Homo sapiens: one gene and its partner. The protein of the gene in region 2 purifies or fractionates together with the protein of the main gene of each other region. This does not show direct contact. Each region holds a gene or a part of one and is shown on either strand. Other genes may lie near its edges.

The links. The genes of interacting proteins can lie anywhere in the genome.
Region 1: the proteins of THADA (region 2) and UXS1 purify together in Homo sapiens (co-immunoprecipitation; one large-scale study listed by IntAct). This does not show direct contact.

Annotation. Positions count from the first base shown.
Region 1 is NC_000002.12:106,184,302-106,187,801, reverse strand, and holds part of UXS1 (UDP-glucuronic acid decarboxylase 1), read left to right. Parts: intron 1-3,500. UniProt on the Homo sapiens protein: Catalyzes the NAD-dependent decarboxylation of UDP-glucuronic acid to UDP-xylose. Necessary for the biosynthesis of the core tetrasaccharide in glycosaminoglycan biosynthesis.
Region 2 is NC_000002.12:43,292,039-43,295,538, reverse strand, and holds part of THADA (tRNA (32-2'-O)-methyltransferase regulator THADA), read left to right. Parts: intron 1-2,325; coding exon 2,326-2,705; intron 2,706-3,316; coding exon 3,317-3,435; intron 3,436-3,500. UniProt on the Homo sapiens protein: Together with methyltransferase FTSJ1, methylates the 2'-O-ribose of nucleotides at position 32 of the anticodon loop of substrate tRNAs.

The DNA of each region.
Region 1 (3,500 bases), about 63 Mb from region 2:
CCATTGCACTCCAGCCTGGGCAACAAAAGCGAAACTCCATCTCAAAAAAAAAAAAAAAAGGAAATTACAGTTGTGACATTGTGACATCTAGTAACATTTATGTAATTTTTGGTGTATTGTGGATTTTGTTGTAGTGACATTTTAGTTGTGGTACCTTTCTTTCCTGTCAGTGTTACTTAACAAGAAAAGAGATAAAACCTGAAAACCATATGAAAGAGTGTTTTATGTGTCTTAGTTTTGTGTTTATGGTAATAGACTTCAAACTTCCCTGAGGTTGGGACTTTGGTTACGGTACAGTTTTGCCCTTAATATAATCAGCTCCCACATGATCGGCAATTGCCCTCATAAATTCATTCGGGACACAATTGTTAGCCTCTGCCTTGGAGGATGTGCAGCAAGTTAGATATCACTGTGACGCCAGAGGACCCTGGGGGACAGCAGACAGCTAAAATCCAACAACCTAGTACCGGTGGCATTCCCAGGCTGACCCGAGCGTGAGATCAGCTTGGGCTTGTCAAATGCAGGTTCCTAGGATCCTCCTAGGCCTGTAGGAGCCTGAGGGTTGGAGGCACAAGCTGGAAATTGTGAATTTTCAACATTTTCAAAATTTCCTTTCAGATTTTCTATCTTTTCTACTAAAAGAATATTTTAGTGAACACCCAAATACTCTCTGCCCAGATTCACCAGATGCCTACATTTTTTTCCACATTTTTCTTTTTCTTACTTTTTTTGTATATATTTTATATATACTTTTTTTGTTGAAATATTTGAAAGGTGCAGACGTAACAGTACTTCACCTTCAAGTACTTTACATATATCTCCTAAGAATAAAGGTATTCTTCTATATAATCTCATTACCATTATCACTCCCTAAAAATTAACAAAATAATATCTAAGATATAGTCTATATTTAAATTTCCCCCCATTGTACCATAAATGACTGTGATAGCCTTTCTGAGATTTTTTTTTTGCTTCTGTTTTTTTGAGACAGGGTTTCAATCTGTTGTCCATGCTGGAATGCAGTGGCATGATCTTAGTTCACTGCAGCCTCAAAATCCTGGACTCAGGTGATCCTCCTGCCTCAGGCTCCTGAGTAGCTGGGACTACAGGTGTGTGCCACCACAGCCAGCTAATTAAAAAATTTTTTTTTGTTTAGTTTAAAATCTAGGACCCAGTCAAGATTTACATGTTGCATTTGGTTTTATGCCTCTAAATTTCTGGAGCCATAGTAGCCTGATTTTTTTTTGTTTGTTTGATTGTTTCTCATAACATTTACCTATATATGTGTGTGTGTGTATATACATATTTACGTATATTCATGTATATGTGTGTGTGTGTGTGTGTATATATATATATATAAAAGCCCAGAGCAGTTTTCCTATAAATGTCCCACATTCTGGATTTGTCTGATTGTTTCCTTATGATTAAGTTCAGTTAAACATTTTTATAACAATGCTTGCTAATTGGTGTCGTTGGGAACATGTAGTGTCTGGGCTGGTCCCACTTGACACTGTTCAGTGTGACCCCTGGAAGGAATGGCCTCTATGCTGCTTCATTTTGAAGGTACATTTTTGCAGTATGCAATCTGTGGAGTGATTCTTGCCACCTGTGCGAATATCTTGTTCTCCAGCCAGTGCATTTCATGTCCATTGACGATCCTTGCCTGGACCGATTTTTCTGTTGGGGATTGCAGTTAGTGATTTTCTAATTTTGTAAATCTTTTGATAGTTATTAACTGGTGGTGTTTTGAAAAGAACTTTCCCTCCCTTTTTCTTCTCTCACTGTATTAGTTTCCCGTGGCTGCTGTAACAAATTACTCCAAATTAGGTGCCTTTGAAACAAGAGATATTTATTATTTCTAAATCTGGTGGCCAGAAGTCTGAAACCAAGGTGTTGGCAGGGCTGAGCTCCCTCGGAATGCTCCTCTGTGGCTCCAGGGTTTCTTGTCTTTTGCCTGCACTGCTCCAGCCTCTGCGGTGACATGGCCTCCTCCTTTTCTGTCTGCTAAATCTCTCCTGGGTGTTTCTTATAAGAACATTTGTCACTAGATTTAGAGCCCAACTGGATAATCCGGGATGATCTTTTTGTCTTGAGATCTTTAATTACAGCTAAAAAGACCTTTTTTCCAAGTAAGATAACAATCACAAATTCTAGGAATTGGAATGTGGACATATTTTAGGGGGCACCGTTAAACTCATGGTGATCTTTCTTTAATCACTGTGGACCCGTAGCTTCTTTTAGTCTTTGAGCACTTCCTTAATGTCTAGATGTTTCAGGCTCATTTTCTTTTTCTACCCCAAACCTGGAATCAGCCTTCTCTCCAAGGAGCCAGAATTGAATGGAATCATTGGCCACTTGCTTGGTGTCTAGAGAGTGGGAGAATTGGTTGGTAGTATGGGAAAAGCACACACACGTGGTATCAGAAGTGTTCTGTAGGTAGAAACAGGGTTTAAGACTTGGGCATCTTTATTTTCAACAATTTTCCCATTTTCCACCATAGTTCCTAAGAAAATGGACAAGGTAAAGTAGTCAAGGTAAAGTGCTGAGTACCATGAGAGAAATGAGATCTGGGACTTGGAGAGAATGGGATGCCCTTAAGACCTGGGGCATTGAGTTGGCATTTAGCAGAAGGATACAATTTGGGCAGTGGAGTTGAAGGTGAAAGTGATGGAATGAGCAGAGGCTGGAGTGACACAATGCCAGGAGCAGGAGTCTTTGTGGCCCATAAAGGCAGAATGTGGAAGTCTGACCTGACATAAACTTGATTTAATGACATGAGTAAGCCCTCCATAAGAATTTGTGCAGCATGAGAGAGATTTTGATGAACATGCCTGAAGTGTTCAGACATTAGGGCAGGGCAAAGTATAATCAGTTTTGCATTTTGGGGTTGGCCCGTGTGGCCTGAAATGTGCTTTGTGGTGTGCATGTCTCCTGAGCTGCCTACCTTTTGTAGATATGTGACTGGATTCTAGTCCTGGTATATGATATGTATGGTACTTCTGTACAGGCCAGTGCTGTGATCTGAATGTTTGTGTCCCCTGGAATTCACATGTTGGAACCTAATCCTTGAAGTGATGGCATTAAGAGGTGGGGTATTTGGGAGGTGATTAGGTCAGGAGGCAGAGCCCTCATGCATGGGATAGTGTCTTTGTAACAGAGGCCCAAGGGAGTTCATTCCTCCCTTCCACCATGTGAGGATACAGCAAGAAGGCACCGTCTGTGAATAGGAAGTGAGCCCTCACCGCCAGTGTCTTGATCTTGCACTTCCCAACCTTCATAACTGTGAGAAACAAATTCCTGTTTATTAGCCACCCACTGTGTAGTATATTTGTGATAGCAGCCTGAACATGGACTAAGACAGCTGAGAAGTCAAGAACATGTCTGATGTGAAGTTGGAGAGCTTTCACAAATAGATATGTTGAATAGGTGAGGCCAGTTACCAGATTCTTCATGTGTACTGAACCCACATTAATGTCTACTGCAAATTTCTTGTCTTGCTT
Region 2 (3,500 bases):
GGATTTATCAGAGAATGCTATGAATATAATATCTAAATTTTGGCAAGGCATTTGGTGAAGTCTGTCATAAGTTCTTGTAGATAAAACTTCATGGACAGAATGATACAATTAAGAGGATTCATAAGTGGGGGATGACTCAAACCGAAGAGGGCTAGTTAATGAATTAGTGAGAGCCTGGAAGAGCGTTTGAGGCAAGGGCCAGCAGGGAGCCTGCTCACCAAAGGCCTCCACCCTCCAGCTTGCCCACATTTTTAGTAATTATTTGATTTTGGGCATTTAGGCATTCCTGTGAAATTGAAGTTTGCCAACTACTTTGTATGCGTTTTTGAGATAGGGTCTCACTTTGTCGCCCAGGCTGGAATGCAGTGTCAGCATCCTGGCTCACTGCATCCTCAACCTCCTGGGCTCAAGTGATCCCCCACCCAGCTGACTTTTTATTTTTTGTAGAAATAGATTTTCACAGTGTTGTCCAGGCTGGTCTCAAACTCCTGGGCTCAAGCAGTCCTCCCACCTTGGGCTCCCAAAATGTTGGGATTACAGGCATGAGCCACCACGCCCAGCTGGTTTACCCAATTTCTATTAGATGATGAACATGTGTGAAGAACTGGGTGCTGGGAGGTACCCGAGACTCCTACCCTAGTCCGCACCCTCATTCCCTAGTCCTGCCAGTTTTATCCCTTCAGTGTTTTTTTTTCTTTCTTTTTTGCCTTTTTAAATGATCACCTTGGCTTCAGACCTTCAGCGTTTCTTAAACCCACCTTCTCCTGATTCCTTCTGAACTTAAGGCCCTCGTCATTTATTTCTCTCCTGGACTACGGTGCAGTAGTGTTGTAACTGGTCTCCCTGCCTCTAATATTGCCTCCTCAACGATAAGAGCACTTCAGTGAAAATGGGCCCCTGACCTTACTGCTTAAAATAACCCCCCAGTGGCATTCCGTTGCATACAGAACTAGCTGCTTCACATTGTCTAGGAGGCTTTCTGTACTCTAGCCACATTTCTTCCCTAGCCTCATCTCCTGCCCTTTCCCACCTCAAATTTTATGCTCCAGTGTTATGGGATGGCCTGTAGTTCCCCACATGGTCCGTTCTGTTTCATGCCTTTGTTGAGCCTTTGCTCAGCTGGTTCCCCTGCCTTTGGTGGTGCTAACACATTGTCACCTGTCTTCCTCTTTGAGGCCTAGGTTATCATTTGTACCACTATATTGGAATTATGTGTTCATGCATTTCTCTTTCTCAAACTAGACTGACTATAAACTCCTTAAGGGCAGTGATCTTATTTAGCTCCTAGCACATAGTAAGCAGGCAATAAGTTTTTGGTTTTTTTATTTTTTTAATCAGAACTGAGAATATGAAAAGATCTCGGCAAATGAAAGGTAGACCATAAAACTTAACAGGAGGATAAAATTTAACAGGGATATACTTGGGCTTAAAATAAACAAAGAAAACACATCTTGGCTTAAGTACTGAGTACAAAGTGGGAGAAAGATGACTCACCACCATCAGTAGACCACGTCAAAAAAGAAGGGCTGTGGTTTCAGTTGACTTTGTGCTCCATATGAGTCAACAGTGTGATGCAACTCCAGTTCAGAACAGAGAAAGTAATAGTCCTGCGGGTCAAACCATGCAGGAGATTTGTGATCCAGCCTATTGGCCATCCTTTAAGAGAGGGTGAGGCATGTCCACAGGAAAGCAGCTAGAATAATGAGAGACAGTGACCCCATCATTTGAGGAAGGAAGTAGGAATGTTTCATCTGGAGAAGACAGAGGGGACACAAGAATTGTAATCAAATGTCTAAAGAGCTGTCATTGGGAGCCTCAAAATGTAGCATTAGGCCAGTGAGTAGAAACACAAAAAGAACTTTTTGACAATTAGATCTACTAACAATGGAATAAGCTGTCTCATGAGCTCCAGGGTACTGTAGGGTTCAACCAAGAGCTTCTGGGAAAGGGTGTTACAGAGGGGAGCTTCACCCCTGAAGGAAGTTTATACTAGATGTCCTCTTCTCATGGTCAGCTTTGAGGCTCGGTGATAAGAGGTCACTGAGTTCGTATTTATTGAATGTTGAGGAGGGGTGCCAGGAACGCATTTTCTAATAGTAATGCCTTTGTGCCCCTGTTGGAAAAATTATACATTACCTAAATGGAAATTGTTGTGGACTAGAAGTCTGAACCTTAGAGGGCCACTCACTTATGACAGTGTTTGAAATCTGCTTATGGGAGACATCTGATGGCCTCACGCAGTGGATTCAGTCTTCATTCTTTCATGTCCTTTTGTGGAAATTTAAAGTGATTATCTCTTTCCCTTTTGCTTTTTTTGCTTCTTAGTTCTGGAGAGTCTTGGCTTCTGGGAGGAAGTCAGAGGGATTATCTCAGGATCAGAGCTGATAACGGGATTCCCTTGGGCCTTCAAGGTGCCAGGCCTGCCCCAGTACCTCCAGAGCCTCACCAGACTAGCCATTGCTGCAGTGTGGGCCGCGGCAGCCAAGAGTGGAGAGCGGGAGACGAATGTCCCCATCTCTTTCTCTCAGCTGTTAGAATCTGCCTTCCCTGAAGTGCGCTCACTAACACTGGAAGCCCTCTTGGAAAAGTTCTTAGCAGCAGCCTCTGGACTTGGAGAGAAGGGCGTGCCACCCTTGCTGTGCAACATGGGAGAGAAGTTCTTATTGTTGGCCATGAAGGAAAATCACCCAGAATGCTTCTGCAAGGTAAAGTCTCCAACGTACTGACTGGCCCTTTACACTCCCCACATTCTTTTGTGAGCCACTGGAATGGTAGGATCATGAAGGCAAGATTGGGTTTAGGCTCTCCAGGGGCAATAGGAAGTAGATTCGGCAGCCAGTGGATAAGGACTCTCTTTTTATGGTGGTTGGCATGGCGTCATACCTGGTAGGGCACCAAGAAAAGCTTTTGATGATAGGAGTATTGATGGCAGAGATTAACCAAAGACAGAGCAAACCACTTTGGGATGTTTAGGAAACAGATCATTAAAAATTCACTGTAGAGTGTGTCAGAGGTAGTCTTTGCTGACATGGCTATTTCAGGGCAGTTGGCCACCTGGGAAGCATAATCAAAAGGAAAGGGCACTGGCCTAAAATCAGGGCATCTGGCTCCCATCCCAAGTCACTAGAGGCCCTCTGGTTAGTCATTGCATCACTCTGCCTCAGTCTCCCAAAGGTATTATGGGGGAAATAAGAAGTCAGTGGGAGCCTTTTGAAAGGTAGACCTCTTGTTGATACAATTGATTATCATGTAACATCTAGAGACATCTCCCTGAGTATTTATTTCTCTTTTTTGTGTGCGGATTTGGCTTACACAGATACTGAAAATTCTCCACTGCATGGACCCTGGTGAGTGGCTTCCCCAGACGGAGCACTGTGTCCATCTGACCCCAAAGGAGTTCTTGATCTGGACGATGGATATTGCTTCCAATGAAAGGTTTGCCCCCAAAACCTCCTGTGCAACCTTGGTAAGATGTATGGTCCCATCAGTCATTATGTAAT